Regions from separate parts of the Homo sapiens genome. Here region 2 is linked to region 1. The links come from fine-mapping of genetic effects on plasma protein levels. Region 1 holds a variant in brackets. A gene starts in the other region. All regions are shown on their forward strands.

Region 1 (15,506 bases):
CTGCTGTTTTGGCTTTAGGTTGCTACTGTCTGTTAAGGTCTCTAAGACACATGGCTTAACTTTATTAATACAGAAACATTTACTGAGCAGTACGGGGGATATCCTACATGGGGTGGGAAGGGGAGGGAGAGGAAAAGGTTATGGCTTTGCAGAGCTTATGATCTTGTTGGGGGAGGGGTATATGTGGAGAAAAAAATACACATAAAAACAGAGGATTGATTTGATTGTCATGATTGTCATGGAGGAAGGCTCTAGAGGCATTGGAGGGGTTTGAGCTGGTGAAAGAGAAGGAATTCCAAAAAATCAAACAGGTGCAGCTGGCAGGCTCATCCCAGCCCATCTGGGGTAGTTCTCTTATCTTAGCTCCTATTTAAGCAGCTCAGATCACTTCTGTTCTCAACCACAATAAGCAAGAAGTACTAGAAGCTTCTTGTCATGGAGCCAGCACTGGAGTTAATGAAGCAATATCCTAGGGACCACCAGCAGGCCCATAACGGGCTGGAAAGAAGGAAACCAGGTTAAGAGGAAAAGTGGGTGAGAGGCAAAGGGAGAGAAGGCAGGTGAGAAGGGGAGTGGGGGGAGAAGTAAAGAGGGGGGGTGGTTAGAAGAATGGGAGAGGGAAAATGGTTGAAAAAGGGGAAATTAGTCTACAACATGTTTCCACATCCCATTATGATCCCTCCACTTGACACATATCTACCCGCCTCCTGCCCTTTATTTAAAATTCACTTCAAGCTGGGTTTAGGTGGCACAGGCACCTATAATCCCAGCTACTCTGGAGGCTGACATGGAAGGATTGCTTGAGATCAGGAGTTCAAGACCAGCCTGGGCAACATAGTGAGATCCTATCTCAAACAGCAATAACAACAACAAACCCCCCTAAAAACCAACTCACTTCAAAGCCCCTCCTCTATTTCTAGAGGATTACTTTTCTAATGATCCAGACAACTACCTCTGAGGATACGCTGAATGGCTGTCTGAACCCAGGATATTTTGTTGAGCTTCCCCTTCTCCCAGAGATCCCACTGGCCATCTTTGTAGTCTTGAGCACTTCACATCATTGTAACAGCTGTCCATGGACCAGATACTGCCTCTCCTTATATTTGGCTATATCCTGTGGATAGGAGTTAGGAGGTACTTCTTTTGATGGAGGCCACATTAAGCCATGTAAATGTGGAAGTATAAATTAAATAAAAAGAACCCACATCTGCCATTCCGATTTCCAATTTTTACCATGGCCCCCAGCCAAGTAACCATCATATGGCACTCTTAGACAAACAATAGGGGACTTGTTTAAATCAAAATGCAAAATGGTGATGAACTGTAGAATATATATATTTAAACAAGTCATTTCCCCCACTGTAACATGGAGAGTTTAGCTGTGCATGCAGGGCCAGCTGGCAGAAGCTTGTAGGGCCTGGCTGGCTACCAGGACTGCTCGTTTACCTTGCCCTCCCTGGGGGAGGTGTGACGGCAGAGTTGCATTTTTATGGTATGCCCCAACATCCATCCTGCCTTTCTTGGTCTGGAGCTTTGTGAGTGTTTATACTCACAGCCATATGTAGATGCTGCCCCACAGCCCTCCTACTTGGATTTTCCTTTTAAAGTGAAGCCATCCTCCATGCCCTGCTCTGGTGGTGGACCAACTTATACGGAATTCTTACTGAGCTACCATGCACAAAGTGAGAGACCGTGAGCTGTTAGTCTGTCCAGAAAGTGACTGAAGGTCCAGCTATGCATTGCAGAGCACAGTGGGCTTTCCCTGGAAGAGCAGGTTTGGATCCTGGGGAATGTAATCTGTGAAAGCAGAGGGCCTTACCCACTCCTACCAGGGTTCTGGGTAGGCATTCAGCAAGGCCCCAGCAGTCTGCAAAAGGTACTGGGGTCCTCTTTTTAGGTTAGGGCCAAAGCCACAGCCTCCTCTGTTTCCCTTAGGATTGCTGCTGCTGGAGGAAGCCCACAGCTTCAATGCCATGCCTTTGCCTTTCCCTCCTAATATTAATCACCTGCCTTTCCAGAGAGCCCCCAGGGAGCCTCCAGAATCCTCATATTTTTCCATCTTTCTATTAGGCATCTTGTTCTCATTACTGTACTAACACTCAAGCTATGTGCGGAGAATGATGAAAAAGAGACCTTGGTGTGGGGCTTGGGATTTGTTCAAAGCCTGGGGAAACTGTTTTAGAGGGTGTATGTTTTTTATTCCTTTTACGAGAGATGCGTGTTTCCCTCCCTCTGTGACTTGTTTAAAAGTAAAGTTTAATATGCTGCCAGAGTAATTGCTGGTTAATAACTTAATAAACTATGTGCTAGGAATTATGGGAGAAAAGTAGTATCCAAGAAAACTTTTATTGTACAGTTTGGGGCTTGGAAGATATATAGCTTCAAATCTTATATAGAATGTTAACACAAGTCCCCTTTCTTTTCAAACCTTACTTTCTCCCTAAAAGCATAAAAAAGGATAAATAGGTGAGGTGGATGAAATCTTCTGGATGCTGCCTGAGCTATGTAAATCACAAGGGGAGAATTTCTAACAGCACCGTCAATAGGACCGTGGTCATGTGAATTTGGCAAGGCACACACTTGGAAATTAGCCCTGGTAAAAATAGTACGAATGATAATAACAATATCAACATCTTATTATATTAAAAGTTTTCTCTTTAAAAAGTATTCTTATTTTATCTTTATAAAATTCTTAAGAAGGAAGAAAAATAGAAATTATCATTCCCATTTTTATAAATCAACAAAGTAGCTCAAGTGACCTAGCCAAGACAAGGGCAGAAACCAAGAATAGAATCAAGGTTTTCTAGAAAACAAATTGTATCTATGTGTCCCAAACACAATCAGGTGAAAAGTGAGACATTGGGCCAAGCAATTAGAAACCACGTAGACTGGTGTTATATCCTGGTAGCCAGTCTGGTGAAAAGCAAGGCTCCAAGTGCAGCTGTTTCTGTGAGGACCAGCATAAAGGCACATTTTCAACGTGGCGATTATGTTGATAGAGACTTCGTTATTTGACAATAGATAGTTCCCGTATCTTCTTAGCACTTTTATGTTTACACTTCCATTACTCACTATGCCCTCCCCTGGTCTCCTCTATTTCACACCTTCATTTTAGAGCTTCCCACTTTACAGATGAAAACTCAGGCCTAAGGAAATTACAGGCCACACCTTGCTGGGCAGTAGTCCAGCAGAGGCCAGACCACTGACTTGCTAACCTTGAGTATTCTCTGCCTCTCCTCAATGGCACTGCACTGTGTTTTCTGGCTAGAGGCTTTCCATTCACCAAGTGCCTCTAGATGTGACTCTCCTTGTGGTTACCCAGGAACGCAGAGCCTGCGGACTGGTGAGGACCCGTCTGGCTTGGGGAGTCCTAGAGTGAGCCCCTGAGCTTGCGTGGGAAGGTGTTATTCCCAGAGGCACCCAGGCCAGTCTAATTGCTGAGGAAGCCTGATCATCACTGGCAGCTGAGGGGAAGGAAAGGCTAGTGAGACTTAGGAGGGCCTCTCTCCAAGATGCTCCCTTGGCCCATTCATGTAAGACCAGCTCATGCTGCCCACAGCCCTTGTGGAGGTGGCCGAAACCCCAGCCACACGGGACAAATGTATCAGGGCTGAGCAGCTTAATATGAGGGCAGATGTGCTCCTGCCAGGCCAGCGCACTGCCGTAAAGCCTGCGTCAGTTACGGACTTCAGTTAAAGGTGCTGTCTCTACCAGGTCACTACTGGAAAACAGCTGTGTGACCCGGGAGAACAAACTTATTTACATATTAAAATTTAGGGACAGCCAGCCAGCTGAGAGTGAGGAAAAGGGATATAGAATAGTTAAGTTTTGATGGCAAGAAGGTCTGGAGCATGAAGCCCTATCCATGGAAGGCAGCTCCTAAGAGAGGGCCCTTGGCAGCCCAAGGACATGGAGTTGTAGAATTTTCCACAAGGATGATCAGGCCTCGGGAGAGGAAGAAAGCAGGTCAAGAGGCAAAAAACAAACTTGCTATTTACATCCCTAATTTGAGCCATCTTCTGAGACAGCCATATCTTTCAAGTAGGAAGAAGTCGCCTGCCCCCGTGTCTATTACCTCTTCTACAAATATCAGCTTAGATTAGATCACTGTTTTGAAATAGGGAGTTAGGGTGCTTCTCTTAGTCCCTTCTGGGGCTACCAACAGGAAGGAAGCCATGCAGGTGGGTCTCCGGGCCCCCACCCCAGTTTAGACCATATTGAAACCATCTCTACTATTTTCAATATCTTGAATTTCCACATAAGCTTGTTTGAAGAATGAATTCCACTGGATTAGACGATCTCTAAATTCCCTTTACTGTTATAAATTCTGTGGTTCTATGGTACTCTTAGCAACATTGGAAAGACAAAACCTATGTGGTCTCAAGTGCATACAGATATCTCTATTCCTATTACTAGCTGCCCAGGCAGGCAACAGGGGCTTCCAGGTGACAAGGACTGCTAATAGAGAGATTTCTGTTAATCCTTAAGAGAGACTAGAAACTCTGATGACCACTAAGCGAGGTTGGAAAGATGTAAAGCATTTAGTGCATTTCATGTGCATATAGACAGCAGCCTACTTACCAGTGTCAGCCAGAGCTCACTAACTTCCTCTTAACTCCTGGATCCAGTCCATATTCCTCTGGCTGACATCTGAGGGTTTCCACAACTGGTCTCTTATCAAATCTTGCACTGCTCTCTAAAGCACAGCAGCTTTCCCTCAGCTTGATCTCCTCACTGGCCCATGATACATCACATGCACTCCCTCCAGTATCCCACTGCACATTTGGTCCACCATCTTGATATGCTCTTTTCCTACCACTTTTTGGTGTTTCCAAATCACACTCTGCTCTACCGCCCATCTCAAATATCTAACTCCTCTGATAAGGCCTTCCTTGACTATCTTAGTCCACATTCTTTTCTGAACTCTTGTACTTACTGTATGTACTTCTATGTATTTCACTGTCTAAATTTTCATTTAGATTCAACCATAACTGAACTCTGACAACAAAGACTCCATTATATATATCTAATACACACACACACACACACACACACACACATTAGGTTCCCACAATGCTGGGCGCTGTACTAAGATACCTTTTGTGTACTTGGGCAATGAGACCTTCACAATTTACTTGGCAACAAAGGTACTATACAAGTGTAACTTTACTCAGTCTCCAATCTGAGACAATTAATCTTATTATTATTATTTTTTTGAGACAGAATCTTGCTCTGTCACCCAGGCCGGAGTGCAGTGGCACGATCTTGGCTCACTGCAACCTCCAACTCCCAGGTTCAAACAATTCTTGTGCCTCAGCCTCCCAAGAAGCTGGGATTACAGGCCCATGCCACCATGCTAAAAAATTAACCTTATCTAATAATTAAACTCACCTATCCTTTAAAGACTTCTCCCTCTTCCTGAAGACTTCCTTGACACCCCTACCCTGACAAGCTGGCATTTATTTCTCCCTTCTCTGCTTCTGCAACACACTTTGACTAATTCTAGCATTGACACAATCTTGTTTATAGTTATTTAAATCCATACTTGTCTTACTTGTGGGGTTTCTGAAACAGAGACAATTATCGTTCATTCATATATTTCCCACTGTGCCTAAACCATTGTCTTGTAATATTTGTGACTCTGAATTGGCTTTAATTGACTGAGAATGGCTCAATGAAGGTAACAAAGGTGTTAATTTATCCAAAAGATGGAAGATGTTACATGCTAAAGGAAAAAACATAACCCACTACATTAGGGCTTTACATAATATTATGAGAATGTGCTGAAGACACTTAAAGCCTGCACTCCCTTGCAAGCTGAGCAATGACAACATTGTCCAAATCTTCCAACAGCAACACCCCAGTAAGCCAACAGCTACAAGTGGAACAAGACAGAGATTTCTGAGCCCTCTATTGAACTAACTGCCATCTCCAGGTTAGGTTTGCAGATTTCTATATTTAAAAAGTAGAAAGCATCAGCAGTTGGGGGTTGAATTCTTGGTGTGTGTGCAGTTGCGTAAAAGGACTATTTTTATTTCTCGCTGCGGTATGAAGAAGCTTTGATCTTGGACGACTTGCTCAAGGGCCCAGGATAATATATTGATCACTTCTGACTGTTTTCACCCAGACTCGTTTCCATAAGCTCAGTCTGTCAACAAGAAATACTTCATATATTTTCAAACTTCACTCTTCCTCAAACAGCTTATTCCTTTAAAACTTGAGGCTGTATTTGTAAAAGGGATATTTAATGAAGAAAATGTTTTGCACCTTGTCCCACTGGCTTGGGTTGAAATACGATAATGTTTCCTTTTGTATTTAAAAAACACAAACAGGATCTCATCCGGAGATATCATGACCTTAGACATTCCTGAGACGTCTGAAAGGGAAGTGAACATATGTCAGCATGCTTGGGTTTAAAATATACCAACTTCATTTCTCTCATCATTCAAATCTGCATGAGGCTCATGTGACTTTGAACAAGCTGTGCTGGAGGATTAAAGACGGGTCCTAATGAGAACCTCTCTCTTCCAGTAAAATCTAGGAATTGAAAAGCAGTTACTACCTCTTCCATTTTTTTCCTAAAAAAAAAAAATAACTTTTTCTAAAATTAAAAAAAGGAGGATCCTTTTTTTTGAAAGAAAAAAAGAAGGAAAGAAAGAAAGAAGAAAAAACGAGAGAAAGAAAAGAAACAAACCAAAAGGCAAAACATAACCCCTAGCAATGCCTGGAAACTTGCTCTGTGGCTAGCGATCCCTGTTAAGACTTGCTTCCCTTAAAGTTTTGGCACGGACCACAAATGATAGCCTTAAAATGCCACATGATCATCTGAATATTTTAACAATCATCCTGGACTGGATTCATTTCAACGGCATGGAAGTGAAACAGCAACTTGCAGCTGTGGCAAAAGGCTGTGGCCTCTTTCTATTTCAAGTCATTGCAAAAGAAGGATCTCTTTCTTCAGGAGGGGACCAGCCCATGAGGGATTTGGGAAGGAGCTAAAGGACAGTGGGAAAATGGAAGCAGACCTAAAACCCAGTATTTCTGCCTGGGAAGTGTAAGTCTCTTGTGTGAATAAATTTGGTGGTGAGAAAATAAATGCTGTTTTCAGCTGTTGTAAAGCAAAATAGAATCCTACACCAGAACTTCTGCAGTTAGCCACAGACCCCCTAGGGAAGAACTGGGATTGCCACACAAAAGCCTCAGCTTTGTCTCTATAAGCATATTTTCCTTAAACACTTAAATCCACAGGCCCTTCAGGAGCACACCACTCAGCTCAGTGGGGTCCAGTAAGTAAGACAGAAAAAGGAGAATAGATGGGAGTATGGATAGGGGGTGACAGGGGAGGAGACAGGAAAGTGACTGGAGTATGGATGAGGGGGATGGAGAAGCAGACGAGGCACACATGAAAGGGCACATGGAGGACTGCATGGGGGTGTGAAGGGCACTTACAGGAAAGCTGGACAGGGAAGTGGATAGATTATTAGAATTAACTTGGGGTAGCAAGTCATTAGGTCTGGTACATTGAGCAGGCTTTCAACAAACATTAGCTCCCTCTACCATCTCTTCCCCTCATCAGCACTGTTTTATGCAAAAAATTTATTCCCAAGGTTGCTTTCCTTGTAACCTTGGAACCTGGTCTTGTATTTCTGAGAGCCTGTTTTTCTCACCAGAATATCAGACTGTTATTTTTAAAAATGATAAACACACTGCATGCCAACAAAGCACTGGTCCCAAAAAATTAGCC[A/G]GGCGTGGTGGCGGGCGCCTGTAGTCCCAGCTACTCGGGAGGCTCAGGCAGGAGAATGGCGTGAACCTGGGAGGCGGAGCTTGCAGTGAGCCGAGATCGCGCCACTGCACTCCAGCCTGGGCGACAGAGCGAGACTCCGTCTCAAAACAAAAAAAAAAACAAAAAAAACACTGGTCCCATACAGGGCACTGAGGCCACTGGGATGGCGGCCCAGACAACGGAGTATGGATTTCCCATAGAGAGCCCTGGGGCCATGAAGCCCCTCAACACAGGTGATCCCAGGTGGGTAGGGAGAGAATCTTGGGCTGATCCCTTCAGTAGCCTCAGCCCTCTCCTGTAGCTCCAAGCTCAGCCACAAGCCCTTGAGAATGAGGCAATGGGGATGGGACTGTTTCAAATGGGGGAGTTGGAAGATCACAGAGCCTGGCACTCTGACCCTGGCTCTTCAAGGTACGTACTCTGTCCCCTGGGAGCTGGTCAAAATGGAGGATCTCAGGCTCCACCCAGACCTAGTGAATGAGAGTCTTCATTCTAATAAGATTCCCAGGTGATTCACGTGCACATTTTCTTTCTGAGAATCACTGTTCTAGAGAAGGCTTAAATTACTGCCATGCAAAACCCTCACATAAAAACACTGGATAGATGGAGGCAGTGTGGTCAAGTACAAAGAGCCCAGTAAGGTGCCGGGAGCTAAGCCCTCAACAAATGATAGTAGTTGTCAGGTAGGATGTTAATTCTGGTGAACTGTGTGAAAACGGATAAATCCTCCAGCCTCTGTGGGCTGTAGTACTCCACATGTACAGGGGTGAGAGTAGACTCTTAATACAATAAACTTCATGAGATTCCTTCCAGTTCTAAAATTCTAGGTCAATGATTCGATTTGATAAGACTCTGTTCTGTTGCTCTCTTTACACTGAAGTAGTGGTTTTAATATACAGTTGTAGTATTTGATATGGCCTGGCATACAGCAGGGCTCAATAGGTATTTGTTGAATGAAGTAATACAGGGATAGTTATTCTATTTAAGCTTCAACTTAAAAAAACTGGGCTGAGTGTGGTGGCTCATGTCTGTAATGCCAGCACTTTGGGAGGCCAAGGCAGGAGGATCACTTAAGGCCAGGGGTACTAAACCAGCCTGGGAACAGAGCAAGCCCCTGTCTCTACTTTAAAAAAAAAAAAAAAAAAGGGCCAGGAGTGGTGGCTCACATCTGTAATCTCAGCACTTTGGGAGGCCGAGGCAGGTGGATCATGAGGTCAGGAGATCGAGACCATCCTGGCTAACATGGTGAAATCCCATCTTACTAAAAATACAAAACCTTAGCCGGGTGTGGTGGCGGGCGCCTGCAGTCCCAGCTACTCAGGAGGCTGAGGCAGGAGAATGGCGTGAACCCCAGAGGTGGAGCTTGCAGTGAGCTGAGATCATGCCACTGCACTCCAGCCTGGGTGACAGAGTGAGACTCCATCTCAAAAAAAAAAAAAGTTAGCCAGGTCCAGTGGCACACACCTATAGTCTCAGTTACTTGGGAGCTGAGGTGAGAGGATCACTTGAGCCCAGGAGTTCAAGGCTGCACTGAGCTATGACCATGCCACTGCATTCCAGGCTGGGTGACAGAATGAAACCATGTCTCTCAAAAAAACCATTTTTTTTTGTTTGTTTTTGAGACAGAGTCTCACTCTGTCGCTCAGGCTGGAGTGCAGTGGCGCGATCTCGGCTCACCGTAAACTCCGCCTCCCAGGTTCAAGTGATTCTCCTGCCTCAGCCTCCCGAGTAGCTGGGACTACAGGTGCATGCCACCATGCCTGGCTAATTTTTGTATTTTTAGTAGAGATGGGGTTTCGCCATGTTGGCCAGGCTGGTCTTGAACTCCTGACCTCCGGTGACCCACCTGCCTCAGCCTCCCAAAGTGCTGGGGTAACAAGTATGAGCCACTGCACTCGTCCCCAATTTTTTTTTTTTGAAGTGCCATAAGCCTCCACAACAATCAACCACTAACCACACCACAGTATCAGGTTTAAATGGTACTTCTGAGGGCCAGTGAGATAACTTGAAATATCTGAATCAGAAACTCTGAGGGTAAGGCCTGGCATCACAGGTTTTAAAACCTCTCCAGATGATTCTAAAAACGCAGCCATGAACATTAAGAACTAGCATCAGCCAATCTGCTACTTAATAAATGCCAATAGCAAGGGATACAAACTCCTGTTTCCATGGGAGCTCAGGTAACCTAATGAGAGACGCGGCTGGGCGGGGGCCGTGCAGAAGCACAGAGTATACTCATCAAGGGAGGATGGCTGGGACTTAGCTCTGGCCCATTGTGGCCACGTGGGAATTTGAGCCTGGTGGTGCCAGATCTTCCAGTTTTTCAAAAGAAGCTGTAGATCTTGATTTACTATGAAATTTCCTCAGTTTAAAATGTCAGCAAATTATTTAAAAAAAGAAATGTAAATCCTCCACAAGTCAAACAAAACACAACTATGGCCAATCTGACCCGAATGCACTGTCAGTTTGAGCCCTCTGGCTGACACTGCACAGCAGGCCTGGGCCTGAGCAGCACCCCAGGGAGGGTCCAGGGGAAGACCCCTTTTAAAGAAGACAAAACAAAATGCTAACGCAGGGCCATCTCTGTTTGGTAATATAGAAAGTAAAAACTGAAGAACAATCTGTACCCGTTTGACTTATCTGTTAACTCATGCCAAGCTGAAATGTTAACTAAAATGGCTGTGAGGCATGTGGTGTGTCTCCCCAGTTGTTTTCACTGTAGAAAAGATTTTTTTATATTAAGGCAGTTTTGAGAAGAGTTAATGAAATAATATTTACAAATCTCCTCATACGAAGCTTGGCACAGAGTAAGCATTCAAAACGTAAAAGTTTCCTCAACTGAATTTTTTATATCTTAGTTAAAATTTTGGTGGAGGTCTCTCACGCACTGTTGGTAGGCAGATGGACTTTTTTAGAAAACAATCTGGCAGTGTATACCAAGACTTTTTCCATTTCCCCTTGACCAATTTATTCCACTTCTGGAAATCAAACCTAAGGCAATAACCCACAATCACACACACTCATACACACACACACACACACACACACACCACACTCATGTACAAAGATTTTTCTGAAACATCATCTACGACACTAAACAAATGGGAAACAAACTGTATGCCAGCAATGGTTAGGTAAATTTAATGAGTAATTATTCAGGTGACAAAAATATGCTACCTTCAAAAATGATGTTTTCAAAGTTTTTTTTTCTTAATTGAAAAATAGGCAAAAGTATTTTATTTTTAGAGATGCACAGGTGGTAAAACTAGGAAGAAAAGCAAAGAAATAATTATCATAAAATGTCAAGACAATGATAACTTCAGATGAATGATGGGGTATATTTTCTTTTAAATATTTTCCATTAAAATGTTTTAAATTGTGATGAAATATACATAATATAAACTTTACCATCTTATCCATTTTTGAGTGTACAGTTTGCTAGTGTTAAGCACATCCATATTGTTGTGTAACAAATCACCAGAACTTTTTTTTTTTTTTTTTTTTGAGACAGAGTCTCCCTCTGTTGCCCAGGCTGGAGTGCAGTGGCACGATCTCGGCTCACTGCAACTTCCATCTCCCAGGTTCAAGCGATTCTCCTGCTTCAGCCTCCCAAGTAGCTGGGACTACAGGTGTGCGCAACCACACCTGGCTAATTTTTTGTATTTTTAGTAGAGATGGGTTTCACCATGTTGGCCAGGCTGGTCTTGAACTCCTGACCTCAAGTGATCTGCCCACCTCGGCCTCCCAAAGTGCTGCGATAACAGCTCTAAGCCACTGTACCCAGCCTCCAGAACCCTTTTCATTCTGTAAAATTAAAACACTATATCCATTAAACAATGCCCCATTTCCTCCTCTCTGTAGCCCCTGGCAACCACTATTCTACTTTCTGTCTCTAGGTCTTGACTACTCTATGTACTTTGTATTAGCAGAATCATATAGTATTTGTCTTTTTGTGATTGGCTTATTTCGCTTAGCATAATTTCTCCAAGATTCATCCATGTTGTGGCATATGTTGGAATTTCCTTCCTTTTCCAGGCTAAGTAATATTCTGGTGTATGTATATACCACATTTTGTTTATCCATTCATCATTCATCAATGGACACCTGAGCTGTTTCCATGTTTTAGCTATTGTGCATAATGCTGCTATGGAAACCTCTTTGAGACCCCACTCTCAAGTCTGTTGGGTATGTATTCAAAAGTGGAATTGTTGGATTAACATAGTAATTCTATTTTCAATTTTTTGAGGAAATATCATACTGTTTTCCACAGTAGCTGTATCACAAAGAGTTTGAAATAATAACAAATGCTCTCATGATACTATCGAGTGAAAAAAGGAAGGAAGCTATAACTTACATATACAGTATAGCCTTGACAAAGTTAAAAAAAAGCATAGGAAAAAAGATGAAGGAATTACATACAACTCTTAACCAATAATAGTGATTTATGGATTGTGGTAAGAATAGACTTTTACTCTCTTCCAAATTTTGTACTTGACTAATTTTCTATGATAAGCATATAGCAGCACACAACAATGAAGGGGAAAACGGTGAAAAAATTTTAGTAGGGCACATATTTATTTCTGGTTATCACATCCACTGCATGCATGCATTCATTCATTCATTTTCTTGAGACAGAGTCTTTCTCTGTTGCTCGGGTTGGAATGCAGTGGCATGATCTCAGCTCACTGAAACCTCCGCCTCCCAGGTTCAAGCGATTCTCATGCCTCAGCCTCCCAAGTAGTTGGGACTACAGGCGTGTGCCACCACTCAGCTAATTTTTTGTATTTTTAGTAGAGATTGGGTTTCACCATGTTGGCCAGGCTGGTCTCAAACTCCTGGCCTTATGTGATCCACCCACCTTGGCCTCCCAAAGTGCTAGGGTTACAGGCATGAGCCACCGCACCCAGCCCTGACTAGTCCATTTAGTTCACTAAGTTTACCAAAAGAAACACACATGCAATATATAAACATACACATACACACTTATTTTTTTCCTTTTATAACCAAAGAAGGAGAAACTAGATAGCCAAATTCACTTCTGAAAAGTTTAAGCCTAATATAATACTAATTACAACTCTTAGCCAAAGTAAATAAGCGATCTAGCTGGGACAGCTGAGCTGGAATCTGCAAGCAGCAAGGGTGGCAGGGCATGGGGCTCATGTCTGTAATCCCAGCTTACTTGGAAGACTCTGGTGGGAGGACTGCTTGAGCCCAGGAGTTCAAGTCCAGCATAGGCAACACAGCCAGACCTCATCTCTAAAACTAAAAAATAAATAAATAAATAAAAAACTTAAAAAAAAAAGTTTTTGTAATTAGCATGAGTGTCAGACTGGGTGATTCCTCTCTCATGATGCCCACTGCCATCCTTTCCAGGACAGCAGCAGATCCCTACTAGACGGCTACTCTCATTTCGTTTCTGGTCTAGGTCAGTTTAGTTTTCTTTCAGTAGTTAGTAAACTGCTTTAGACAGTAAACTGGATCAAGAAGGGAGGAGTGGAGGAAAACAGGAAGGAAAGGACTTGAAGGATTAATGAGCTGATTTCCATTAAGGCTTTGACATCCTGGAATGAAAAGCAGCCTGTAAGAGCAGAAGCCCAGTCCTTTCCTGAAGCCATGTTGCCAGCTGACCACTCATCACCAAAAATTCCCCAACAACTCCATGGCTATTGCTTAATCACCTCATATAAATCCCTATTAATCTTGCAAAGTCAAAACACAAATATAGGACAAAAGTCTTCATTTTATGTTCCCTCAATTTCAGAGTCAAAATTTAAAGACTGAATTGGTTATCCAATAGTGCCAATCAATTTTTTAAAAACTTTCTTTGAGAACAAAAGGACAAATACATATCCACTAGCATTTTTGTACTTATGGGACTGAAGAAACTCAGGCTAATGATCAAATAAATTAGGGAAGGAAAAGGGTGTCGGTGTTAAAATTTAAGGCAACATTTTTTTCTTTGCAAAAACATTAATTTTTCATAGCTTATATTCAAAAGATACAGAAAATCCTTAGTAGACTCAAAGGAACATTTATTTTTCTTTCATGTGTAAATTACCAGGGACATAAAAAAGCCTCTTCAGTAGTTGAATTTGGAATACTCTGCACTGTAATATCTTCATGGGAAAGGCAGGTGAGAAAGTAAAGACAGGGGTCTGTTCTGAGAAGGGACCGCTAGGACGAGAGGGGGTGTGTCTGAGCATGGAGTTAACTAGTATAGACAGACAACTCCCAGAACAAGAGGACCTCAGGGACAGGGCAGGCATGTGACACCGAGGCTTCATCACTTATACCCAGTTCTATAATTTGCTATTTAGGAACCTCAAAGTTATCCTGTCAATGATGTGGATAATATAGAAAAACTGATACATAGCTTTGGAATGCATTGTGCTGTCTGGCAGTATGTTTTCCTTCCAAACTCTATTTCAGGCTCTGAACACATTCTGATTAACACTTGTAAAAGTGTGCTGGGGAGCAAAAGGAAGCCTGGTGTTAGGAACCATTTACAGACCACCCACAAAGCGGAAAGTTCACACTTGGATAATAGAGAGTTGACTGTACTGGAAACAGAAAAGTGGCTGTCCTACATTCTGGGCAAGGAAGGTGGAAACCCAGTAAATTGCAGTGATTCATTCCTTTGTCTTCTAGAGCTGGAAAATCATGGAGAAAAATCAGAAGTGGGGTGGGGAGCAGAGGGAATGAGAATGGAAAGCCCAATTAGAAAACAGCAATAGGGACCACAGGACAGGTTTTAAAAGGCCAGGAGGACTTCCCTTCCTCTTAGCTGCAGAGGAAGCTGATGGCAGCTTTGTCAGCCATCTTCAGGCACTGCACAACATGAAGGTCCACTCAATGGCTGGCCTGCCGCTCCATCTCCTCCATCTCATCCAACAAGAGGTAATGGACTCAGGAAGCCAGTGGATAATGACTTTCTACGAGATGCATGAAGGAGTAGCAAGCTAAGGGGGCAGAAACTCCTTCCTTACAGCACTTTAAGAACTAGAGTGTTAGGATACTTGGGACAGTCCTGGCTAGAAGCAGGTTTCAGAGGATAATTTCTGGACAGCTCTGACTTCTTGATCCCCAGAAATAACAGGTAGGAAGAAGTGGCCTATTACCTGGCAAACAGCTGAGGGTACTGATGTGATATGTATCTTTGGGATGCTAAGAGCCACACAGAAGGCAAATGGTACTAGGCGTGGGTAAACACTTCATGGGTAAGCAACTCCTACTCTCTAAATAAAATGGAGAAAACAAGTTGGGTGCAGTGGCTCACATGCCTGTAATCCCAGCACTTTGGGAGGCCGACGCAGGTGGATCACCTGAGCTCAGGAGTTCGAGACCAGCCTGGGCAATCTGTTGAAACTCCTTCTCCACCAAAAAACCCCACAAAAATTAGCCAGGCATAGTGGCGTGTGCCTGTAGTCCCAGCTGCTCAGGGGACTGAGGCGGAGGGATCACTTCAGCCCCAGGAGGTCAAGGCTACAGTGAGCCGTGGTAGCGCCACTGCACTCTAACCTGGGTGACAGAGCATGACCCTGTCTAAAAAAAGGGAGAATAGACTAACAGACTAAAAATGAGAGGCTCCCAATAACTTTACCGGCATTTCAGACACAAGATAATTTCTCCATCAATATCCCTATCCAAAGCTATTAATGTTGAGACAATAATTGAGATACACACATCCACACATTGGGAAATCCACCGCTGGCTCCTTCACCAA
Region 2 (15,506 bases), not on the chromosome of region 1:
GACAGTAGCCCCGCCTTCCCCAGCGTGGGTTTTGCCCTCTGTAATGTTGCGTAGGGCTGTTGCGATCACAGAAGGTGGTGGAGTGTGAGTACTTCTGGGGTACTTGCCGGAGGCTGGGGATTTGTGGAGGTGTGTGGCTCAGTTTTATTCCAGGAAACCGTGGCCAGACGGGCCTGTCAGCACCTTCCCTTTCATCTACAGTTCCTCAATTGGGGGGGTGTGAGTTGTTTCATAAGCCCCTCCCCCTCATTTCTTGCAGGAAAGTGGTAATGCAAAGAAACTTTTATTTTATCCACATCTATATTCTTTGTAACCTTTTAAAATAAGATACTTGGCCTGGCGCCTGTAACCCCAGCATTTTGGCAGGCTGAGGCAGGCAGATCACTTGAGTTCAGGAGTTCAAGACCAGCCTGGCCAACAGGGTGAAACCCCACCTCTACTAAAAATACAAAAATAAGCTGGGCACGGTGGCGCACGCCTGTAATCCCAGCACTTTTGGAGGCCAAGGCGGGCAGATCACCTGAGTTCGAGAGTTTGACACCAGCCTGACCAACGTGGAGAAACCCCCGTCTCTAATAAAAATACAAAGTTAGCCGGGCGTGGTGGCGCACGCCTGTGATCCCAGCTACTCGGGAGGCTGAGGCATGAGAATTGCTTGCACTCGGGAGGTGGAGGTTGCAGTGAGCCGAGAGGGTTAGGGTTAGGGTTCAGGAGGAAGGAAAAACCTAGGGTGTTTAGCCCCGGAAATCTCTCTTTTGATGTTCACTGCCTCGAGGTTCTTGCTACCTCTTGCTCCAAGTCACAGCCTGGCCCCAGCAGGTCATGCCAGAGCCCCCAGCCTGTCCTCTGCCAAGCGGTGGTCCTGGCAGCTGCTTAGACTCCCACTCCGAAGCTGGATCATCTGTAGATGGGAAGTGTTTGCATAAATGGGGCCAAGGAGTGCTCTCCAGCTCTTTGGTAAAGAAGCCTGACAGCCGCCAAGGCTTTTACTTTTATTTTCCATCCTTCACCCGGGAGGGGAAGCAAGTATCACTGTGTTCTGATTTGGCAGAGCCACCTGTCATTGCAACTTGTCACCAGGGCAACAAGTCACCATCTTAGTAAGGCAGCCAATGAGAAGCATGGGTTTCCTCTGGTGGTCGGTTTCACAGAACGGCAACAGTTTCTAGGCATCCGAGTGATACCAGAACTCTTTGTTCAAATAAGGCTTCAAGGACAGATGTATAGTGACAGAGAGGAGAACAAGCTGGTAGCAATTATGAATTTTCACAAGGAAAACTAGTTGTGGGGAGCAGAAAAATCCTCTCTGTGGCTTCAGGAACAAAGAGGCCATTTCCCTTGGGTCTTTAGGAAACCCCTTTTTTCCAACTATAATTTATTTTATTATTATTTTTTGAGATGGAGTTTCGCTCTTGTTGCCCAGGTTGGAGCACAATGGTGCGATCTCGGCTCACTGCAACCTCTGCCTCCCGGGTTCAAGCGATTCTCCTGTCTTAGCCTCCCGATTAGCTGGGATTACAGGCGTCTGCCACAATGTCCGGCTGATTTTTGTATTTTTAGTTGAGACAGGGTTTCAGCATGTTGGCCAGGCTGGTCTGGAACTCCTGACCTCAGGTGAACTTCCCCCCTCGGCCTCCCAAAGTGCTGGGTTACAGGCGTGAGCCACCGTGCCCAGCCCAGCGATAATTTAAATTACAAGTATTTGGCCCGGCATTAGTGGTGCATGCCTGTAATCTCTGCACTTTGGGAGGTCAAAGACCAAGGATCCTGGCAACATATGAGACCCTGTCTCTACAAAGAAGAATCAATTTTTTCAATTAACTGTGGGTGGTGGTGGGTGCCTGTAGTCCTAGCTACTCAGGAGGCTGAGGCAGGAGGATCGCTTGAGCCCAGGAGTTGGAGGATGCAGTGAGCTCTGATGGCACCACTGCACCCCGGCGTGGGAGATCGAGACAGAGTGAGACGCCATCTCTAAAAAATAATAATAAATAAATAAATACGTATTTGGTGGTGATGGTTACAAGATCGTGTGCAGAATTTTAGTGTATATAAATGCCACCTTAATAAAAACTGATTTTTAGAAAATAATTCTTGGGAAAACCAAAACGTGCAGCAGGCAGGTAGACACATTTGTCAAAATGCATCAAACTCAGTAACAGCAGACCAAAGACTGCCTGTTCTCACTTATAAGTGGGATCTAAACTTCAGGTACTCATGGACATAAAGGTGGCAATAATGAACAGTGGGGATTGCCAGGGAGGGGTGAGGAAAAGGGGCATGAGGGTTGAAAATCTAACTGTTGAGTGCTGTGCTCACCATCTGGGTGACAGAGTCGCTCATACCCCAAACCTCAGCATCATGCAATATACTCAGGTAGGAGACTGGCACAGGTATCCCCTGAATCTAAAATAAAAGTTGATAAAGAGGGTCCCGGGCGCGGCGGCTCACAACTGTAATCCCAGCACTTTGGGAGGCCAAGGCGGGCAGGTCGCTTTGAGGCCAGGAGTTCGAGACCAGCCTGGGCAACATGGTGAAACCCCGTCTCCACTAAAAATACAAAAATTAGATGGGCGTGGTGGCGGGCACCTGTAATCCCAGCTACTTGGGAGGCTGATGCAGGAGAATCGCTTGAACCCGGGAGGCGGAGGTTGCAGTGAGCTGAGGTCGCACCGCTGCACTCCAGTTTGGGCAACAGAGCGAGACTCCGTCTCAAAAAAATGAAAAAATAAATAAAAGTTGATAAAGAGGGCTGGCCATGGTGGCTTATGCCTGTAATTCCAGCACTTTGGGAGGCCAAGGCAGGCAGATCACTTGAGGCCAGGAGTTTGAGACCAGCCTGGGCAACATGGTGAAACCCCATCTCTATGAAAAATACAAAAATTAGTTGGGCGTGGTGGTGTGTGCCTGTGGTCCCAGCACTTTGGGAGGCCGAAGTGGGTGGATCACTTGAGGTCAAGAGTTCGAGACCAACCTGGCCAACATGGAGAAACCCTGTCTCTACTAAAAATACAAAAATTAGCTGGGTGTAGTGGCGCGTGCCTGTGGTCCCACCTACTCAGGAGGCTGAGGCAGGAGAATTGCTTGAACCCGAGAGGCGAAGGTTGCAGTGAGCCGAGATTGTGCCACTGCACGCCAACCTGGGCAACAGAGTGAGACCCTGTCTCAAAAAAAAAAAAAAATTTAAAAAGTTGAAAAAGAAAAACAATGCATGAAACCAAACACATAAGATAGGCACATTCTACTGTATGTAAATTACACATCAACAAAATGGATTTTTCAAAAATCACTGTTTCTGGGATTTTATTAGATAGCATTTGGTACAAAATTGAGGTCAGTAGAGCTCAGTTTTACTGGTAGAAATCAGAGGAAGTTAAAGGATTTTATGTTTTAGAAGAGAATTAAGGGGCATATTGCCTTTTCCTGCTACTGAACCAAGAGTTTTCAAACTGGGTCCCTAGGGAACCCTAGAGGTTCCATGCCTACCCTGCTTTCTCCTCAATCTGTCATCACAGCTGCCCACTCCTTTTGTGTCGTTCAAAAGGTTTTACCCGAAGAGTTCTGAGAACAAAGGGTTTGAAAATCAGAGCTCTCAAAAAATGATTTTTCTTTTTCTTCTTTTTTTTTGAGACGGGATCTTGCTTTGTTGTCCAGGCTGGAGTGCAGTGATGCCATCATAGCTCATTGCAGTCTCAGCCTTCCTGGGCTCAAGTGATCCTCACACCCCAGCCTCCTCAGTAGCTGGGACTACCAGCATGGACCACCACACCCAGCTAATTTTTTTCCATTGATTGATTGATTGATTGATTGAGACCAAGGCTCACTCTGTCGCCCAGGCTGGAGTGCAGTGGTGCAATCTCAGCTCACTGCAACCTCCACCTCCTGGGTTCAAGTGATTTTCCTGCCTCAGCCTCCCGAGTAGCTGGGATTACAGGTGCCCGCCACCACGCCCATCTAATTTTTGTATTTTTAGTAGAGACGGGGTTTCGCCATGTTGGCCAGGCTGGTCTCGAACTCCTGACCTCAGGTGATCTGCCCACCTTGGCCTCCCAAAGTGCTGGGATTACAGGCGTGAACCACTGCGCCCGGCTTTTTCCCTTTTATCTTTGTAGAGATGGGGTCTTGTTATGTTGTCCAGGCTGGTCTCAAGCTCCTGGCCTCAAGCGATCCTCCTGCCTCAGCCTCCCAAAGCACAAGGATGACAGGCGTGAGCCACTGCACCTGGCAATAACATGGTTTCTGTCTCTTTTCAAGCTACCCTTTGTCCAGGGTGTGTCAAAGAGTAGCTCAAGAAGAGACAGAAGTCATGTCTTCAAGGAGGCAGGATGAGCTGGGACTTGAGCATGGGGAAATATCTGGACAAAAACGGACTTGAAAGTTCCTGCTAGGACCAGAAGAGACAGGGAGCCTGTGGAATTCACTTTTCCCCTCTAGATCCCCTGTCCCACAAATTTGCTTTCAGTTCCTCTAAATACACACACTCCATTCTGCCTCAGGTCCTTGGAACATGCAGTCCTCTCCCTCCACCCAGAAGGCCCTCCCTAACTGCCTCTCCTGGTTAACCCTTCTGCATCCTCCACCCTCCCTTCAAACATCTTTTCCTCCCCCCAAAATACTTTCTGGATTCCCCCATGTGGGGTTGATTTTTAGGTCAGAGGTTCTCACGGAAAAGGGTTCCTCTCCTTGGGAGATGGAAGGGTCCTTGAGGCTGATGGCTGATTGAGCATTCTATTGGTGTTTTTTGTTGTTGTTTTTTTGTTTTCTTTTTTTTAGAGATGGGGTCTTGCTCTGTTGTCCAGGCTGGAGTGCAGTGGTGCGATCATAGCTCACTGCAGTCTCCAACTCCTGGACTCAAGCGGTACTTCTGTCTCAGCCTCCTGAGTAGCTGGGACTACAGGAAGCCACCACCATCCCTGCCTAATGTTTTCTTACGTTTTGTACAGAGGGAGGGTCTCACTGTGTTGGCCAGGCTGGTCTTGAACTCCTGGGCTCAAGTGATCCACCCACCTCGGTCTCCTAAAGCACTGGGATTACAGGTGTGAGCCATGGCGCCCGGACTTTTTTTTTTTTTTTTGAGATGGAGTTTTGCTTTTTGTTGCCCAGGCTGGAAAGCAATGGCACAACCTTGGCTCACCACAACCTCCGCCTCCCGGGTTCAAGCAATTCTCCTGCCTCAGCCTCCCGAGTAACTAGGATTACAGCTACCCACCTGGTGTGCCACCACGCCTGGCTAATTTTGTGTTTTTAGTAGAAAAGGGGTTTCTCCATGTTGGTCACGCTGGTCTCGAACTCCCGACCTCAGGTGATCCACCCGCCTCGGCCTCCCAAAAGGCTGGGATTACAAGCATGAGCCACCGCGCCTGGCCCATTGCCCGGCCTTTTTATTGCTGTTCTGTTGGTGTCTGCCTTTCCCTGACTGACAAGGGCCAACTCGTCCCGGGCAAGGGCAGCATCCCTCTGCTTCTTAGTGTATGCATGGTGTTTAACACAGCATATGGAACATAATAGTTGCTCAATAAATATTGCCTGCGCTTTGAACCTGTGTGCACCGTTGCATTTACACAGGGCTTTAATACACATGCATCATGTTGATTGAAATATAAATACATAGAGAAAATTGTGCAAATGAGAGTTACAGCTGAAAACTTTTACAAAATTCCCCCCTCACTAGGGGCCTTCCTGGTATGCTTTTATCACCACTATCTCTGATTCCCCAGGACTCTTCCATCGTCATTTCCGACAGCATAAATTAGTTTTGTTTGTATTTCATTTATTATTATTATCATTATTGTGAGACGGAGTCTCTCTCTGTTGCCCAGGCTGGAGTGCAGTAGCATGATTTCAGCTCACTGCAACCTCCACCTCTTGGTTCAAGCGATTCTCCTCCCTCAGCATCCCGAGTAGCTGGGATTACAGGCACCTGCCGCTACACCTGGCTAATTTTTGTATTTTTAGGTATTTTTTTTTTTTTTTGAGACGGAGTCTTGCTCTGTCGCCCAGGCTGGAGTGCAGTGGCGCCATCTCGGCTCACTGCAAGCTCCGCCTCCCGGGTTCACACCGTTCTCCTGCCTCAGCCTCCCGAGGAGCTGGGACTGCAGGTGCCTGCCACCACGCCCGGCTAATTTTTTTGGATTTTTAGTAGAGATGGGGTTTCACCGTGTTAGCCAGGATGGTCTTGATCTCCTGACCTTGTGATCCGCCTGCCTTGGCCTCCCAAAGTGCTGGGATTACAGGCAGGAGCCACCGCGCCCGGCCCCCTTTTTTTTTAATAAATGGATTTGTATGGTATGTTCTTTTTGGGGTCTGGCTTCTATGCTAACATATGTTCGTGAGAATCAGCCACATGGTTGGGTGTAGCTGTAATCCATGGACAGTTGTCTCATTCTCACTCATCACCACATACCAGGGGTACAAAAAAATGTTTTCTGTAACGAGTCAGATAGTAAACATTCTCAGCTTTGGGGGCCCTACTGTCCAACCACTCTACAGCTGCTGAGCTCTGCCATGGACATGTGATAGCAGTCACTGATGATATATTAAAAAATGGGGCCAGGTGCAGTGGCTCATGCCTATAGTCTCAGCACTCTGGGAGGCCAAGGCGGGCGGATCACTTGAGATCAGGAGATCGAAGCCAGCCTGGCTAACATGGCGAAATCCCATCTCTACTAAAAATACAAAAATTAGCCGGACATGGTGGCGCACCTGCCTATAATCCCAGCTACTCGGGAGGCTGAGGCAGGAGAATCGCTTTAACCCGGGAGGCAGAGGTTGCGGTGAGCCAAGGTCGTGCCACTGCACTCCAGCCTGGGTGACAAGAGCGAGTCTCCCTCTCAAAAAAAAGGGGGTAGCAAACTGTGTGTGTGTGTTTGTAGGGACAGGATCTCACTATGTTGCTCAGGCTGCCCTCAAACTCCTGGGCTCAAACAATCCTCCTGCTTTGGTCTCTCAAGTAGCTAGGATGACAGGTGCCTGCCACTGAGCTTGGCAATTTTTTTTTTTTTTGAGACAGAGTTTCGCTCTTGTTGCCCAGGCTGGAGTGCAAGGGCACCATCTTGACTCACTGCAACCTCCACCTCCCGGGTTCAAGCAATTCTCCTGCCTCGGCCTCTCAAGTAGCTGGGATTACAGTCGCGTGCCACCACACCCGGCTAATTTTGTATTGTAAGTAGTGATGGGGTTTCACCACATTGGCCAGGCTGGTCTTGAACTCCTGACCTCAGGTGATCCACCCGCCTTAGCCTCCCAAAGTGCTGTGATTACAGGCATGAGCCACCGCACCCAGCTGACAATGTTTTAAGAAAATTTTCTTTATGGACTTTTTATGAAAATTATATGAATTTGAATTTTATATGATTTCTATTTTCACTAAACATTACAAATATTTTTTGGCTAGGCACAGTGGCTCATGCCTGTAATCTCAGTGCTTTGGGAAGCTAAGGTGGCAGGATCTTTTGAGGCCAGGAGTTTGAGACCAGCCTGGGCAATAGAGTGAGACCCCACCTCTACAAAAAAATTAAAAAAATTAGTTAGGTGTGGTGACACATGCCGTAGTCCCACCTACTCAAGAGGCTGATGAGGGGGGGATTGCTTGAGCCCAGGAGTTTGAGGCTGCAGTGAGCTATGATTGCACCATTGCACTCCAGCGTGGAAAACAGAGCCAGACTGTGTCTTTTTTAAAAAAAAAACAACTTTTTTTTCCCTATGGTTTAAAAATGTGAAAATTGGCAGTGCCTCAAAAAGTTAAACATAGAATTACCATATGATCAGGCAGCACTACTCCTGGACATACGCCCAGAAGAATTGAAAGCAGGAGCTGCAAACAGATATTTGCACATCTATGTTCAGAGCAGCATTATTCACAATAGCCAAAAGGCAGAAGCAGGCCAGGCACAGTGGCTCACACCTGTAATCCCAGGACTTTGGGAGGCCGAGGCAGGCGGATCACTCCAGATCAGGAGTTTGAGACCAGCCTGGCCAACATGGCAAAACCCCATCTCTACTAAAAATACAAAAGAAAAAAAAATTAGCCAGGTGTGGTGGTGGCACATGCCTGTAATCCTGGCTACTCGGAGGCCGAGGCAGGATAATCACTTAAACCCAGGAGTCAGAGGTTGCAGTGAGCCAAGATCGTGCCACTTGCACTCCAGCCTGGGTGACAAGAGCGAAACTCTGTCTCAAAAAAACAAAAAACAAAAACCTTTTAGATCCGCCATCTGTGGTGGAGCCGCCACCAAAATGTAGATTTTCCTGAAAACCCTTACAGGGAAGACCACCACCCTCGAGGCTGAACCCTCAGATATGGTAGAAAATGTAAAGGCCAAGATCCAGGGTAAAGAAAGAATTCCTCCTGATCAGCAAAGACAAGCACTGGAAGATGGGCGTACTCTGTCTGACTACAACATTCAAAAGGAGTCTCCTCTTCATCTTGTATTGAGAATTCGTGGTGGTGCTAAGGAAAGGAAGAAGTCTTTTTTTTATTTTTTTTGAGATGGAGTCTCGCTCTGTAGCTCAGGCTGGAGTGCAGTGGTGCAATCTCGGCTCACTGCAACCTCTGCCTCCCGGGTCCCAGTTCAAGCAATTCTCCTGCCTCAGCCTCCCGAGTAGCTGGGATTACAGGCACGTGCCACCACGCCCAGCTAATTTTTGTATTTTTAGTAGAGACAGGATTTCACCATGTTGGCCAGGCTGGTCTTGAACTCCTGACCTCGTGATCCACCTGCCTCGGCCTCCCAAAGTGCTGGGATTACAGGCCTGAGCCACTGAGCCCGGCCAGAAGAAGAAGTCTTACCTGCAAGACGAATAAGCACAAGAGAAAGAAGGTGAAGCTGGCTGTCCTGAAATATTATAAGGTGGATGAGAATGGCAAAATTAGTCACCTTCGTCGAGGTTGCCCTTCTGATGAATGTGGTGCTGCAGTGTTTATGGCAAGCCACTTTGACAGACATTATTGTGGCAAATGTTGTCTGACTTACTGCTTCAACAAACCAGAAGACAAATAACTGTATGAATTAACAAAAGACGGCCAGGCGCAGTGGCTTACACCTGTAATCCCAGCACTTTGGGAGGCCGAGACGGGCGGATCACAAGGTCAGGAGATCGAGACCATCCTGGCTAACATGGTGAAACCCCGTCTCTACTAAAAATACAAAAAAATTAGCTGGGCATGGTGGCGGGCGCCTATAGTCCCAGCTACTCGGGAGGCTGAGGCAGGAGAATGGAGTGAACCCGGGAGGCGGAGCTTGCAGTGAGCCGAGATCGTGCCACTGCACTCCAGCCAGGGCAACAGAGTGAGACTCCATCTCAAAAAAGAAAGAAAACCCACAAAAGACGTGAACTAACAAAAACAAACAAACAAACAAAAAAACAAAACAAAAGCTGGAAGCAACCCAAGTGTCCATCGATGGATGAAGGAATAAACACAACGTGGTTCATCCACACAAGGGAATGTGATACAGCCATGGAAAGGAAAACAGTTCTGACTCAGGCTACAGCAGGGATGAACCTTGGGGATATTATGCTCAGTGAAATAAGCAGATACAAAAGGACAAACACTGTGTGATTCCACTCCTAGGAGGTCCCTAGAGTCATCAGATCCATAGAGGCAGAAAGCAAGATGGAGGGTGCCAGGGGCTGGGGAGAGGGATAGGGAGTGAGTGTTTCATGGGGACAGAGTTTCAGTTTGGAAAGAGGAGAAAGTTCTGGAGATGGACGGCAGTGGTGGCTACATAACAACATGAATGTGCTTATTGCCACAGAATTGTGCTCTGAAAAATGGTTAAAATAGGCTGGGCATGGTGGCTCACACCTGTAATCCCGGCACTTTGGGAGGCTGAGGCGGGTGGATCACTTGAGGTCAGGAATTTGAGACCAGCCTGGCCAACATGGTGAAACCCCATCTCTACTAAAAATACAAAAAATTAGCCGGGCATGGTGGTGCACGCCTGTAATCCCAGCTACTCGGGAGGCTGAGGCAGGAGAATTGCTTGAACCCAGGAGGTGGAGGTTGCAGTGAGCCAAGATTGAGCCACTGTACTCCAGCCTGAGCAACTGAGTGAGACTCTGAAACAAAGAAACAAACAAAAGCAATGGTTAAAATGGAACAAGATGGTGCATACCTGTAGCTTCAGCTACTGGGGAGTCCAAGGTGGGAGGATTACTTGAAGCCAGGAGTCTGACACTAGCTTGGGCAACATAGCAAGACCCCGTCTCAAAAAAAAAAAAAAAAAGGCCGGGCACGGTGGTTCACGCCTGTAATCCCAGCACTTTGGGAGGCCAAGGCGGGCAGATCACAAGGTCAGGGGATCGAGACCATCCTGGCTAACACGGTGAAACTCCATCTCTACTAAAAAAAAAAAAATACAAAAAATTAGCTGGGCGTGGTGGCAGGCGCCTGTAGTCCCAGCTACTTGGGAGGCTGAAGCAGGAGAATGGCGTGAACCCAGGAGGCGGAGCTTGTAGTGAGCCGAGATCGCGCCACTGCACTCCAGCCTGGGCGACAGAGCAAGATTCCGTCTCAAAAAAGAAAAAAGTAAGTTATAATGGTAAGTTGTATGTTATATGTATTTTACCACAAAAAGGCCCGTTGTACTGGAAACAAAGAACAAATAAAAATGTAATAACCATTCCAAGCTCATGGGTGGTCCAAGAAGAAACATGAGCTGGACCTTGGCCCATGAGCAATGGCTTTCCAACTTCTGTTGCAGGTGATGCCATTGATGGAATAAACCATGATTTTTCTTTCTTCTTTTTGAGATGGAGTCTTGCTATGGTGCCCAAGCTAGTCATCCAGGATGGAGTGCAGGGGCACGATCTCAGTGCACTGCAACCTCCACATCCCGGGTTCAAGTGATTCTCCCACCTCAGCCTCCCAAGTAGCTGGGATTACAGGCACACGCCACCACGCCCAGTTAATTTTTGTATGTCTAATGGAGACAGGGTTTCATCATGTTGGCCAGGTTGGTCTCAAGCTCCTGACCTCAAGTGATCCGCCCGCCTTGGCCTCCCAAAGTGCTGGGATTACAGGCGTGAGCCACCGGCCATAAACCATGATTTTATTTACCAGTTCTATTGCTCATGGGCATTTGGGTATGAATGTGGTATGTCATTCTCACCCAGAGACATAATTATTATTACTATTTTAGAGAAGTGGTCTTGCTCTGTTGCCCAGACTGGAGTGCAGTGCTGTGATCATAAGTCACTGTAGCTTCGAACTCCCGGGCTCAAGCAATTCTCTCACGTCAGCCTCCTTAGTAGCTGGGACTACAAGTGCTTGTCCGCACCATGCCTAGCAAGAGGCATTAATTTTGTCATGTTTGCATCAGCCACCCTTGCATGCAAAACTCTGCTTGTCTACCTGTTCCTCAGACCACAGCCCCTGGCATTATCCCTGGGGCACCACCTCCTGACCAGTCTCTGGACATGAAGACGGAGGCCCTGTTGGAAGTGGGAAGGCTCCCTTCCTCCTCCAGCCCTTACTGTCTGCTCAGGGGCTTCCTCTTGGCCCCGGATGTGGGACCGGAGGGTTGGGGGCCCAGGGACTTATTAGCCAAGCCAGGAAGCCCCACCCCAAGAGGCCTCAAAGAAAGAGCTGCGGTGCAGGAATTCGTGTGCCGGATTTGGTTAGCTGAGCCCACCGAGAGGGTAAGTGACAGCTGCTCCTGCGCTTGCCATGGCACCAGCGGGGAGGCTGGGGTCAAGGCTGAGCCTCCATCCCTGTCCCCCACATGGGGGGACAGGGGTCCAGGTCCAGGGGCAGATCCTACTCCCTCCATGGGCCGGATCTTCCCCACAGGGCAGGGCTGATCCAGCTGTGGGTCTCTTGGTTCCCTCTTTCAGCGCCTGCAGGATGAAAGCTCTCTGTCTCCTCCTCCTCCCTGTCCTGGGGCTGTTGGTGTCTAGCAAGACCCTGTGCTCCATGGAAGAAGCCATCAATGAGAGGATCCAGGAGGTCGCCGGCTCCCTAAGTGAGGACCCCCCACTTGGGCAAGCTCCCCAAGGGTCTCAGAGACCTCACTGATCCCTGGCACAGACCTGACTCCAACCCAGCCCCAGCGCTCACCAAATCTCATCCTCAAATCCAACCAGATCATAAATTCAACCCCAACTCCACTCCCAACCCCTCCGACTGTCCCCACCTTATCCACGGCTCCAAACCCAATCCCCGCTCTCACTCCAAACCTTCCCTTACTCCAAAACACCCAACTCAAGACAGGGTCCTGGAGGCCAGTGAGCTCCTATGCCCACAGGGACCTAGCTCCAAACCAACAGGGCTAGGGGAGGATGGGGGAGGGACCGTTTGGTCTCACAGCTCCCCCTGTCTCCTTTCCTCCTGCCCCCCAGTATTTAGGGCAATAAGCAGCATTGGCCTGGAGTGCCAGAGCGTCACCTCCAGGGGGGACCTGGCTACTTGCCCCCGAGGTGAGTGCAGGAGACTGTTGTCCAGGCGCCCATTTCTGTTCCAAGTCCCCTGGGAATGCCCCCTCCCCGCCACGTTCCCCGTGTCCAGCCTCTACTCCCCTAGGATCTTGGTCCTGACTCCCAGCCTTCTCCGCCCACCATCTGGACACTGGTGTCCACCCTCACTCCCTGCCTCCAGTGCCCATTCAGTGGTTGGAGCCTCCAGCCGTCCCCGTCCCCACCCCCGCCCCCCCAACCCCCCTCCGCGCTCCCCACCCCCCTCCCGCTCCCACCCTCAGCCTCCCAGCTCAGAGTCCACGCTCCTGTGTTCCGGGCTGCAGGCTTCGCCGTCACCGGCTGCACTTGTGGCTCCGCCTGTGGCTCGTGGGATGTGCGCGCCGAGACCACATGTCACTGCCAGTGCGCGGGCATGGACTGGACCGGAGCGCGCTGCTGTCGTGTGCAGCCCTGAGGTCGCGCGCAGCGCGTGCACAGCGCGGGCGGAGGCGGCTCCAGGTCCGGAGGGGTTGCGGGGGAGCTGGAAATAAACCTGGAGATGATGATGATGATGATGATGATGATGATGGAGCGGATCTGAGCCCTGCGTGGTTTCTTTAGTAGGCCCGGAGGGACTGATCTAGCGTCTCCAAGAGAGTGGGGCGCGTAGCTGCTGGAGGGGGCGGGGACACCGCGACTTTCTACTGCCCCATCGCCCTTCCTCCTATGGGGTCTCCAACTGCTTCCTCCGAAAATAGGGCCTGAACTTCCTCTAGTGACGTCCCCACCCAAGGCTCATGGCTGCCTTCAAGAGGTGACGTCTCATCTTTGAGGCTACCTTGACGCTCACCCTGGGGTCTCCGACCTCCCCAGGAAGTGGCTGGGTCCTTTTCCCCCAGTCCTCATAATGAGGCTTCATCGAGGACCTGGGTCAGTCTGGGCAGTGGACGGGACCCTCCAGGGCCCCAAGACTCCAGGAGCCCCAGGTCAGGGTGGAACCCTGAATCATGTCTCAGCCCAGAGCTGGAACCTGTACCCCTCACTTCCTACCTGCAAGGAGGAATCCCCAAGGCACAGGCAAAGTTGGGTTACGGAGAGTCAGGGACGCCTACCTGACGTCACGCATCATCACAAGCTCACGTTTTCACACAGGCAAGTGCAGTTGTGAGTAGTTAGTTACAACCAGATACACGCAGGGTGCTTACCCCTTCCTGGATACTAGATTATGAAAACACAGAGCAGGGGACTTGTCTGCTCCTAGATCCCCCCCAGGGTTTCGTTTCTTCCCTTCCCTTCCCCTCCCCTCCCCTCCCCTCCCCTCCCCTCCCCTCCTCTCCCCTCTTCTCTTTTCTTTCTTTCTTTCTTTTTTTTTTTTTGAGACAGGGTCTCGCTCTGTTGCCCAGGCTGGAGTGCAGTGGTGCAATCTCGGCTCACCGCAACCTCTGCCTCCTGGGTTCAAGCGATTCTCCTGCCTCAGCCTCCCACGTAGCTGGGACTACAGGCGCTCGCCACCATACCTGGCTAATTTTTGTATTTTTAGTAGAGAAGGAGTTTCACCATGTTGGCTAGGTTGGTCTTGAGCTCCTGGCCTCAAGCGATTCACCCGCCTCAGCCTCCCAAAGTGCTGGGATTACATGCATGAGCCACCGCGCCTGGCCTATTTTTTAATTTTTATTTTCGAGACAAGGTCTTACTCTGGCGCCCAGGCTGGAGTGCAGTGGCACAATCTCGGCTCACTGCAACCTCTGCCTCCTGGGTTCAAGTGATATTCCTGCCTTAGCCTCTCAAGTAGCTGAGATTACAGGTGCCCACCACCATGCCCAGCTAATTTGTATTTTTAGTAGAGAGCGGGTTTCACCATGTTGGCCAGGCTAGTCTCAAACTCCTGACCTCAGGTGATCCACCCACCTCGGCCTTCCAAAGTGCTGGGATTACAGGCATGAGCCACTGCACCCAGCGCCCCCAGGGTTTAGAATAGAGCATGGAACACAGTAGACGTTCAGTAAATGTCTGTTGATCAGTAGCCACATGTGCACTTAGATACAGCACCGACGTGCACATACTGCACATGCACACACAGCTATACACAGCCACGTGCACACACAGAGTACACAACCCACCTACCACGGCCACATGGAGACACCACATCCACAGACACACCCATGTGCCCCTAGACACTCTTGGACACAGAAAGGCACCACCCCCCCGGCCAATGCACGGAGAATCGCAGATTTGACTATGGTGGGCAGAGATGATGCAGGACACAAACACACACATGCTCCAGGCAGACTCTTGCATTTCTGACTCTAGTCCCCACTGCACCTGGATAAGTATCTGATACCCTAGTGCAGCGATCCCCAACCTTTTTGGCACCAGAGACTGTTTTCATGGAAGACAGTTGGTGTGTGTATGGGGTAGGGGGGGAGCGGGGATGGTTTCTGGGTGATTCAAGCGCATTACATTTATTATTCACTTTATTTTTATTATTATGACATTGTAATATAGAATAAAATAATTCTACAACTCACCATAATGTGGAATCGGTGGGAGCCCTGAGCTTGTGTTCCTGCAACTAGATGGTCCCAGCTGAGGGTGATGGGAGACAGCGACAGATTACCAGGCATTTGATTCTTATAAGAAGTGAGAAAGCTACATCCCTCAAATGCGCAGTTCACGATGGGATTCTTGCTCCTATGAGAATCTAATGCTGCTGCTGGTCTGACAGGAGGTGGAGCTCAGGTGGTAATGCGAATGATGGGGAGTGGCTGTAAATACAGATGAAGCTTCTCTCGCTCGCCCACCACTCACCTCCTGCTGTGAGGCCCCGTTCCCAATGCCCGGTGGCTGGGGACCCCTGTTCTAGTGGGCAAAAGCCTCAGCATCCCCCGCCTCAGCTCCCTGGGGCACAAATTCAGGTGATTCGGGGTCCAGTTCTACAGGAAGCCTGACCCAGGAGTCTTGCCATCCAGTCCCTGATTTCCCACCACAGACTTCAGAATTCCTAGCACCTAGTCTTGAAAGGGATCCCAGACTCAAATGTCACACCTGGACAACAGATGATAGAGTGAGGTTCTGGTTTGCAGGATGTTTTGGACTCTCCTCCCACTGCCACCCAC

Which allele goes with the higher level. Alleles are on the strand shown, and positions count from the first base shown. The strength of an association depends on the size of the effect and on how common the allele is.
As copies of G replace A in region 1, the plasma level of the protein whose gene starts at base 11,565 in region 2 goes down (weak association).

The links. A credible set is the group of variants that fine-mapping cannot tell apart. PIP is the chance, under the fine-mapping model, that this variant and not a neighbour inherited with it causes the effect. Protein levels are from antibody-based Olink assays in UK Biobank. Linkage for the fine-mapping came from a reference panel and not from the study's own genotypes, which makes the PIPs less certain.
Region 2: it holds the start of RETN, and the variant in region 1 is the best candidate, but not a certain one, in a credible set for the plasma level of the RETN protein (UK Biobank, PIP 0.66).

The regions. Positions count from the first base shown.
Region 1 is chr2:43,326,888-43,342,393 of GRCh38, forward strand. The region is part of intron 30 of THADA (THADA armadillo repeat containing); the gene reads right to left. Among named protein-coding and RNA genes, the nearest start is that of LINC01126, 110 kb to the left of the region's middle. RefSeq lists an enhancer at 10,101-10,190. The variant A/G (reference allele first, on the strand shown) is at 7,745.
Region 2 is chr19:7,657,485-7,672,990 of GRCh38, forward strand. RETN (resistin) reads left to right here and starts at 11,565. Exons shown (of 4, transcript NM_020415.4): 1 at 11,565-11,637; 2 at 11,833-11,960; 3 at 12,337-12,414; 4 at 12,735-12,971. The coding sequence starts at 11,843. The coding sequence ends at 12,865. It also overlaps the pseudogene RPS27AP19. RefSeq lists an enhancer at 668-787.